Linked DNA regions of Homo sapiens. The protein of the gene in region 1 purifies or fractionates together with the protein of each later gene. This does not show direct contact. Each region holds a gene or a part of one and is shown in the gene's direction. Other genes may lie near its edges.

Region 1 (3,820 bases):
TTCCTTAGTAAGGATTTTGATGCCCGAAAGGCCTACCTGGCTGGCTCCATCAAAGGTAAGAAGGGAAAAAACAGGCCAGGGACGGTGGCTCACGCCTGTAATCCCAACACTTTGGGAGGCCAAGGCGGGTGGATCACGAGGTCAGGAGATCGAGACCATCCTGGTTAACATGGTGAAACCTCGTCTCCACTAAAAATACAAAAAATTAGCCGGGCGTGGTGGCACCCGCCTGTGATCCCAGCTACTCGGGAGGCTGAGGCAGGAGAATCAGTTGAACCTGGAAGGCGGAGGTTGCAGTGAGCCGAGATTGTGCCACTGCACTCCGGCCTGGGCAACAGACGAGACTCCGTCTCAAAAAAAAAACAAAAAACAAAAAAAAGAAGGTAAAAACAAAACCCTTCCAACAACAAAATCCCCAAGCCAAAAACAGTCTCATTAGATCCTATTGTGCCTAATAGAATAATTACATAATTAGATTATCTAATTAGAATTATCTAGTTATTAGATAATTCTAATCCTTCCATACGTTATTTTCATTTACATATTTTTCATATCATTTGTACACAAGAGGGTGCCTTTAACCCCCGTATTTCCTTATTGAGTTAGAATTCTCTCAGAGGAAAACAGGTTTTTGTGGTGTTTGTTTCCATATTATTCTATTGGCTATTTTAGAAATATTTTCTCGCTGGTGGGCTGAATTTTGTGCCTCGAGGTCTTCATGGATTACATTTCTTTTCTTAGATCTTAGCAGTTATCTCTGTCATCTGAAGAGCCCAAGGCCTTGACCACAAACTCCTAATTTAAGTTCCAGCTGGAAAATCCAAAATGCAGACAGCTCAGGCCTAAGCCACAGACTTCAGGGTCCCTGAGCAGGAGGCGAGGGGAACTCTGAAGGCGAGGCTGCCCTCTGTCATGTCCTCCCATGGTGCCCATCTGTCTTTCCTTTTGATCCCGCTGTTCTTTGAATTTTCTCAGCATCCCTGTTGAGGTGGTAGGTGTTTGTCAGGCTAACTTAAGGACTTAAGTAATTATACTGGGGGACATGGGGGAGTTAATAGACTTTTTTTTTTCCTTTTGAGACAGGGTCTTGCTTTGTTACTGAGGCTGAAGTGCAGTGGTACAATTACGGCTCACTGTAGCCTTAACTTCCTGGGCTCAAGCAATCCTTCCACCTCAGCCTCCCGAGTAGCTGGGACTACAGGTGCACACCACCATGCCCAGCTAATTTTTTTTTTTTTTTTTTTTTTTGAGTCAAGAGTCTCACTGTGTCACCCAGGCTGGAGTGCAGTGGCACAATCTCAGCTCACTGCAACCTTTGCCTCCCAGGTTCAAGTGATTCTCGTGCCTCAGCCTCCCAAGTAGCTGGGACTACAGGCACCTGCCACCACACCCAGCTAATTTTTTTTTTTTTTTTCTTTGAGATGGAGTTTTGCTCCAACAAGTGTTGCCTAGGCTGGGTGGCGCGATCTTGGCTCACCGCATCCTCCGCCTCCTGGGTTCAAGTGCCTCAGCCTCCCAAGTAGCTGGGATTACAGGCATGTGCCACCACGCCTGCCTAATTGTGTATTTTTAGTACAGATGGGGTTTCTCCATGTTGGTCAGGCTGGTCTCGAACTCCTGACCTCAGGTGATCCGTCTGCCTCGGCCTCCCAAAGTGCTAGGATTCCAGGCATGAGCTTCCGCGCCCGGCCGCTAATTTTTGTATTTTTAGTAGAGATGGGGTTTCACCATTTTGGCCAGGCTGGTCTCGAACTCCTGACCTCAGGTTATCCACCCGCCTCGGCCTCCCAAAGTGCTGGAATTACAGGTGTGAACCACTGTGCCCAGCCTAATTTTGTATTTTTGGTAGAGATGGGGTTGCACCATGGTGGCCAGGCTGGTGTCAAACTCCTGACCTCAGATGACCTGCCTGCTTAGGCCTCCCAAAGCGCTGGGATTACAGTGTGAGACACTGTGCCCAGCCCCAGCTAATTTTTAAACATTTTTTAGAGACAGTCTCCCTGTGTTGCCCAGGCTGGTCTCAAACTCCTGGGCTCAAGTGATCCTCCCACCTTGGCCTCCCAAAGTGTTGGTATTACAGACATGAGTCACCCTGCACCTGGCAGACATTTTTTTTTTTTTTTTTAAATCAGGAAGTTTTAATGATACAGAAAGATGCTGGTTCCCTTCACATCAGTTGTTTCAGTTTTTTGTGAGTCTAGCTTCCTCTATGCATCCCATCATAGAGTCCCTTGCGGGGCAGAGCACACGTCCTGGGAAGCTGACATAGGATAGATCTACTCTTCCACCAAATAAAGTGTTTGTATGCTTTACAACATTTGCCTAAATTCTCTGTATTAAAAATAATTTTGTACGTCAGGTGCTGTGACTCACACCTGTAATCCCAACACTTTGGGAGGCTGAGGTGGGTGGATCACTTGAGGTCAGGAGTTCGAGATTAGCCTGGCCAACATGGTGAAACCCCGTCTCTACTAAAAATACAAATATTAGCCAGGTGTGGTGGTGTGTGCCTGTAATCCCAGCTACTCGGGAAGCTGAAGCAGGAGAATCGCTTGAGCCCAGGAGGCAGAGGTTGCGGTGAGCAACTATCTTGCCACTGCATTCCAGCCTGGGTGACAGAGTGAGACTCGGTCTCAAAAAAAAAAGAAAAAAGAAAAAAAGAAAAAAAAATCTTTATTTCTTTGCATGATGTGTAATGCAGTAACATTACAATTTCTCTTTTTTGAAGACATTGTATCTCAGTTTGGAATGGAAACTGTTATCTTACACACAGCACTGATGCTAAAGAAAAGAATTGTGGTGTATCACCCCAAGATAGAAGCGGTCCAGGAGTTCACCAGGTATCACCTCTAATTATAAAAAAGTGTTAACTTTGTTGGCAGACAGTTCGCAGCACTAGATGTTACTGTGTGCTCTGCTGTGTTGCACATTTGCTATAAATAGCATGTGGTGAAATACCACCTTTGGTCTGAAGTTTCTGTTTAGCTCTAGTAGTTCAAGGTTACTGATTTGGACTATTTATGACTATTTTAGAGCAGGGGATTAGCAAACTTTTCCTTGCCAGACAGTAAATATTTTAGGTTTGTGAGCCATATGGTCACTGCCCCAACTACTCAACTGCCTAGGTAGCACAAAAGCAACCATGGAGGACACGTACATAAATGACTCAGCATGGCTGTGGTCAATGAAATTTTATTTTCAAGGACAGGCAGCTAGGCTGTGGGCCATAGTTTGCTGACCCGTTTCAGGTAAATTGTTCCTTCTGTTCAGTTTTATCAAAGACTCTTTTTTTTTTCTTGTTTTAATTAAAAAGTTTTAGAGCAGGACAAAGACTCTTACTTTGATAGTACATATAGATTTTTTAAATTTTATTTTCATTTTTAGTAGAGATGGGGTCTTGCTGTGTTGCCCAGGGTGGTCTCAAACTCATAGGCTCCAGTGATCCTCATGCCTTGGCCTCCCAAAGTGCTGGAATTACGGGTGTGAGCCACTGTGCCCGGCCAAAATAAATGTAGATTTTGTTGTTGTTAATAATTTTTTTGCCAGGAGGGTCAGTTCAGGGCCAGGAGGTGCCTGCCAGGCCCTGTCCCCTCTAACAGCTCCCCCACCTGCCATACAGATTTTTAAAGATTTTTTGTTTACTAAATCTAACTTGTTATTAGGTCCTTTTAAATTTTTTTCATTTTTATTTTTTTTATATTTTTTGTCGAGATGGGGTTTCTGGGGTCTCACTATGTTGGCCAGGCTGGTCTCGATGTCCTAGGCTCAAGTGATTCTCCTGCCTCCGTTGAGATGATTACAGACATGAACCACCACACCC
Region 2 (3,820 bases), about 100 Mb from region 1:
GTTTCACCATGTTGGTCAGGCTGGTCTCGAACTCCTGACCTCATGATCCACACGCCTCATCCTCCCAAAGTGCTGGGATTACAGGCATGACATTCTGCTTCCTAAGAACTTTGTGCAAATCACCAATGGGCACTTAGGCTGAAGTCCCAACTCCAGGCCCTTCTTGGCCTCTACACAGCACAATATAAGGGGCCCCAAATTGGACTGCCGAGAAAGAAGTGTGACTTACTGCTTTTCGTTCTCTGGGGCAAGGGAGAGAACAGAGTTAGTGGAAATGCACGTATGCAGTTGGTTCAAGGAGATCTCTGTCTGACAGCACTTTTGCTCCTAGAGCCCCAACGGTAAACTGACTGATTTCCTGAGCTTCTATACGCTCCCCTCCACGGTGATGCACCACCCTGCTCACAAGAGCCTCAAAGCCGCCTACTCATTCTACAACATCCACACAGAGACGCCCCTGCTGGACCTCATGAGCGACGCGCTCATCCTGGCTAAATCGGTAAGCCACTCCTTCCTGTTCACGCCGTTTGGTTCTCCAAATGTCTGTGCCAAACTATAGAAGACATCTTACTGTGTTTTCTTCCACACAGGTGGAATTTATGCGAGACTTTAAAAAAACTATTGATCATCAGTCAAAGGAAGAATTTTGATAAGAGTTTCTTTTGAAACTTTAGAGGCTATTTTCATCATTAATTTTATGGCAGTTTAACAAAAAAGACAAAATGTACAAATTATAAATGTTTAATCCTTATATAAGAATATATAAGGCTGGGCATGGTGGCTCAGGCTTGTAATCCCAACACTTTGGGAGGCCGAGATGGGTGGATCACCTGAGGTTAGGAGTTTAAGACCAGCCTGGTTAATATGGTGAAACCTCGTCTCTACTAAAAATACAAAAGTTAGCCAGGCTTCGTGGTGTGTGCCTGTAATCCCAGCTACTCGGGAGGCTGAGGCAGGAGAATTGCTTGAACCTGGGAGGCAGAGGTTGCAATGGAGCTGAGATTGCACCACTGCACTCCAGCCTGGGTGACAGAAACTGTCTCAAAAAAAAAAAAAAAAAAAAAAAAAAAAAAAAAAATATATATATATATATATATATATATATATATATATATATATAAAGCCCATATCTTAGGAAGTAATATAAGGAAAATATTAATACATGAGTGAATATTTTTGTTGAGTGAATAACTAGCAGCAATTTTTTTATTCAACCAAATAGTCTCTGAATTTTAAAATTAAAGGAATGAAATTCAAAATTTAATTGTAGCCAGTCTACATGGTGAAACCCTGTCTCTACTAAAAATACAAAAATTAGCAGGGTGTGATAGCACACACCTGTAATCCCAGCTACTCGGGAGGCTGAGGCAAGAGGATTACTTGAACCTGGGAGTTGGCGGTTGCAGTGAGCCGAGATTGCACCATTGCATTCCAGCCTGGGCCACAGAGTGAGACCCTGTCTCAAATTAATTAATTAATTAAAATAAAATAAAATAAAAATCTCTTACCTGTGCCTTTGGATCCCCAAGTCAACATCATCCTCAGATTGTCTGCTTTTTTTCAACACTTCCCAAATATGGCCAGTAATTAGTTATTTAAGGTAAAAACCCTGAGAAATAAAAATAAAAAGTGCTTCTTCTATATCACATTTTGCATAGTATTATTGTCTGACATTTTAAAGAAATTTAATTTTTTACCATTAAAATTTTACATAAATATATTTCCCATTATCAGCCCAAAGCAAACATACTATTTTTTTATACTTTTTTTTTTTTTTTTTTTTTTGAGATGAGTCTTGCTGTGTTACCCAGGCTGGAGTGCAGTGGCACAGTCTCGGCTCACTGCAACCTCTGCTTCCCATGTTCAAGTGATTCTCTTGTCTCAGCCTCCAGAGTAGCTGGGACTATAGGTGTGTGCCACCACACCTGGCTAATTTTTGTATTTTTAGTAGAGACAGGGTTTCATCATATTGACCCGGCTGGTCTCGAACTCCTGACCTCAGGTGATCCACCTGCTGCGGCCTCCCAAAGTGCGGGGATTACAGGCGTGAGCCACCACGCCCGGCCTGCATACTATTTAAAGTCTTTACAACTTTGGTCCCTGGGCAATAGCTTCAGCCAAGGTAGGACTTAGAAAGGCTAATAATTAATAATCCTGGAGATGAAACCATCTTGACAACTGTTCCCTTCTAAAACAAGAACGAGGCTGGGTGCAGTGGCTCATGCCTGTAATCCCAGCACTTTGGAAGGCCAAGGCAGGTGGATCACTTGAGGTCGGAGTTCAAGACCAGCCTGGCCAACACGGTGAAACCCGGTCTCTACTAAAAATACAAAGAAATTAGCTGGGCATGGAGGTGCACACCTGTAATGCCAGCTACTAGGAAGTTTGAGGCAGGAGAATTGCTTAAATCTGGGAGGTGGAGGTTGCAGTGAGCCGACATCATGCCACTGTATTCCAGCCTGGATGACAGAGTGAGACTCCATCTCAAAAAAATTTAAAAATAAATAAATAAAACATAAATAAAATATTTTCTGAAATCTTCATAAGTAATTTTATGCCAGTGACAGCCATCATACTACATTTTTAACATTTTTGGGATTCAGCGTTTCTGAATTTTCATGCTGACTTCATTGGATTCACTATAGTTTGTTTGTTTTTTGAGACAGGCGCTCACTCTGTTGCTCAGGTTTAAGTGCACTGGCACAATCACAGCTCACTGCAGCCTCGACCTCTTCGGCTTATGCAATCCTGCCTCAGCCTCCTGTGTAGCTGGGTCCACAGGCACACACCACCATGCCGAGTCAATCTTTTTATTTTTGTAGAGACAATGTCCTGTACCTACACCTACACCTATACCTACAGCCTATGCCCAGGCTGGTTTCAAATTCCTGGGCTCCAGTGAGCCTCCCACCTTGGCCTCCCAAAGTGCTGGGATTACAGGCGTGAGCCACCACATCCAGCCACACTGCTAGTTTTATAAGACAATTTTCAACTGAATTCTTCCTCTTTTTAAAGAAAGAAAAAAAAAAAGTCTCACTCTGTCGCTCAGGCTGGAGTGCCGTGGCACAATCTCGGCTCACTGCCACCTCTACCTCCCAGGCTCAAGCAGTTCTCCTGCCTCAGCCTCCTGAGTAGCTGGGACTGCAGGTGTGCGCCACCACATCTGGCTTATTTTTGTTATTTTTAGTAGAGATGGGGTTTCGCCATGTTGGTCAGGCTGGTCTCGAACTCCTGACCTCAAGTGATCCACCCACCTCAGCCTACCAAAGTGCTGGGATTATAGGCATGAGCCACAGCATCCGGCCCTGAATTCTTAACCTATGCTATATATCACGGACGTTAAATCCTATTAGAAATGCATATTCGAGCTATTAGTAGAATTGTTAAACTGAGATATGTAATACAGAAAACACTAGTCCTTTGTTTTAAATTTTAAATCTTTTTTAAATTGGCAGAAAGGATTTGATGTATTCAATGCACTGGATTTGATGGAAAATAAGACATTCTTGGAAAAACTCAAGTTTGGTATAGGAGATGGCAATTTGCAGTATTACCTGTACAATTGGAGGTGTCCAGGTACAGATTCTGAAAAGGTAAGTGAAATGGATATAGCCCTTGTAAACTCAACAAATGTACCTAGACAATTTCATACTTGCTTCACTTAGACTTAAGACAGCTTTATTTTATTTTTGTTCATTTTATTTATTTATTTATTTATTTTTTTGAGATGAAGTCTCGCTCTGTCCCCCAGGCTGGAGTGCAATGGCATGATCTCAGCTCACTGCAACCTCCGCCTCCCAGGTTCAAGTGATTCTCCTGC

Evidence for each region.
Region 2: the proteins of DENND10 (region 1) and NMT2 purify together in Homo sapiens (affinity purification with mass spectrometry; one large-scale study listed by BioGRID and IntAct). This does not show direct contact.

The regions. Positions count from the first base shown.
Region 1 is NC_000010.11:119,117,613-119,121,432, forward strand, and holds part of DENND10 (DENN domain-containing protein 10), read left to right. Parts: coding exon 1-55; intron 56-2,728; coding exon 2,729-2,840; intron 2,841-3,820. UniProt on the Homo sapiens protein: Guanine nucleotide exchange factor (GEF) regulating homeostasis of late endocytic pathway, including endosomal positioning, maturation and secretion, possibly through activating Rab proteins such as RAB27A and RAB27B.
Region 2 is NC_000010.11:15,109,475-15,113,294, reverse strand, and holds part of NMT2 (glycylpeptide N-tetradecanoyltransferase 2), read left to right. Parts: intron 1-331; coding exon 332-499; intron 500-1,508; exon of another isoform or gene 1,509-1,767; intron 1,768-3,455; coding exon 3,456-3,593; intron 3,594-3,820.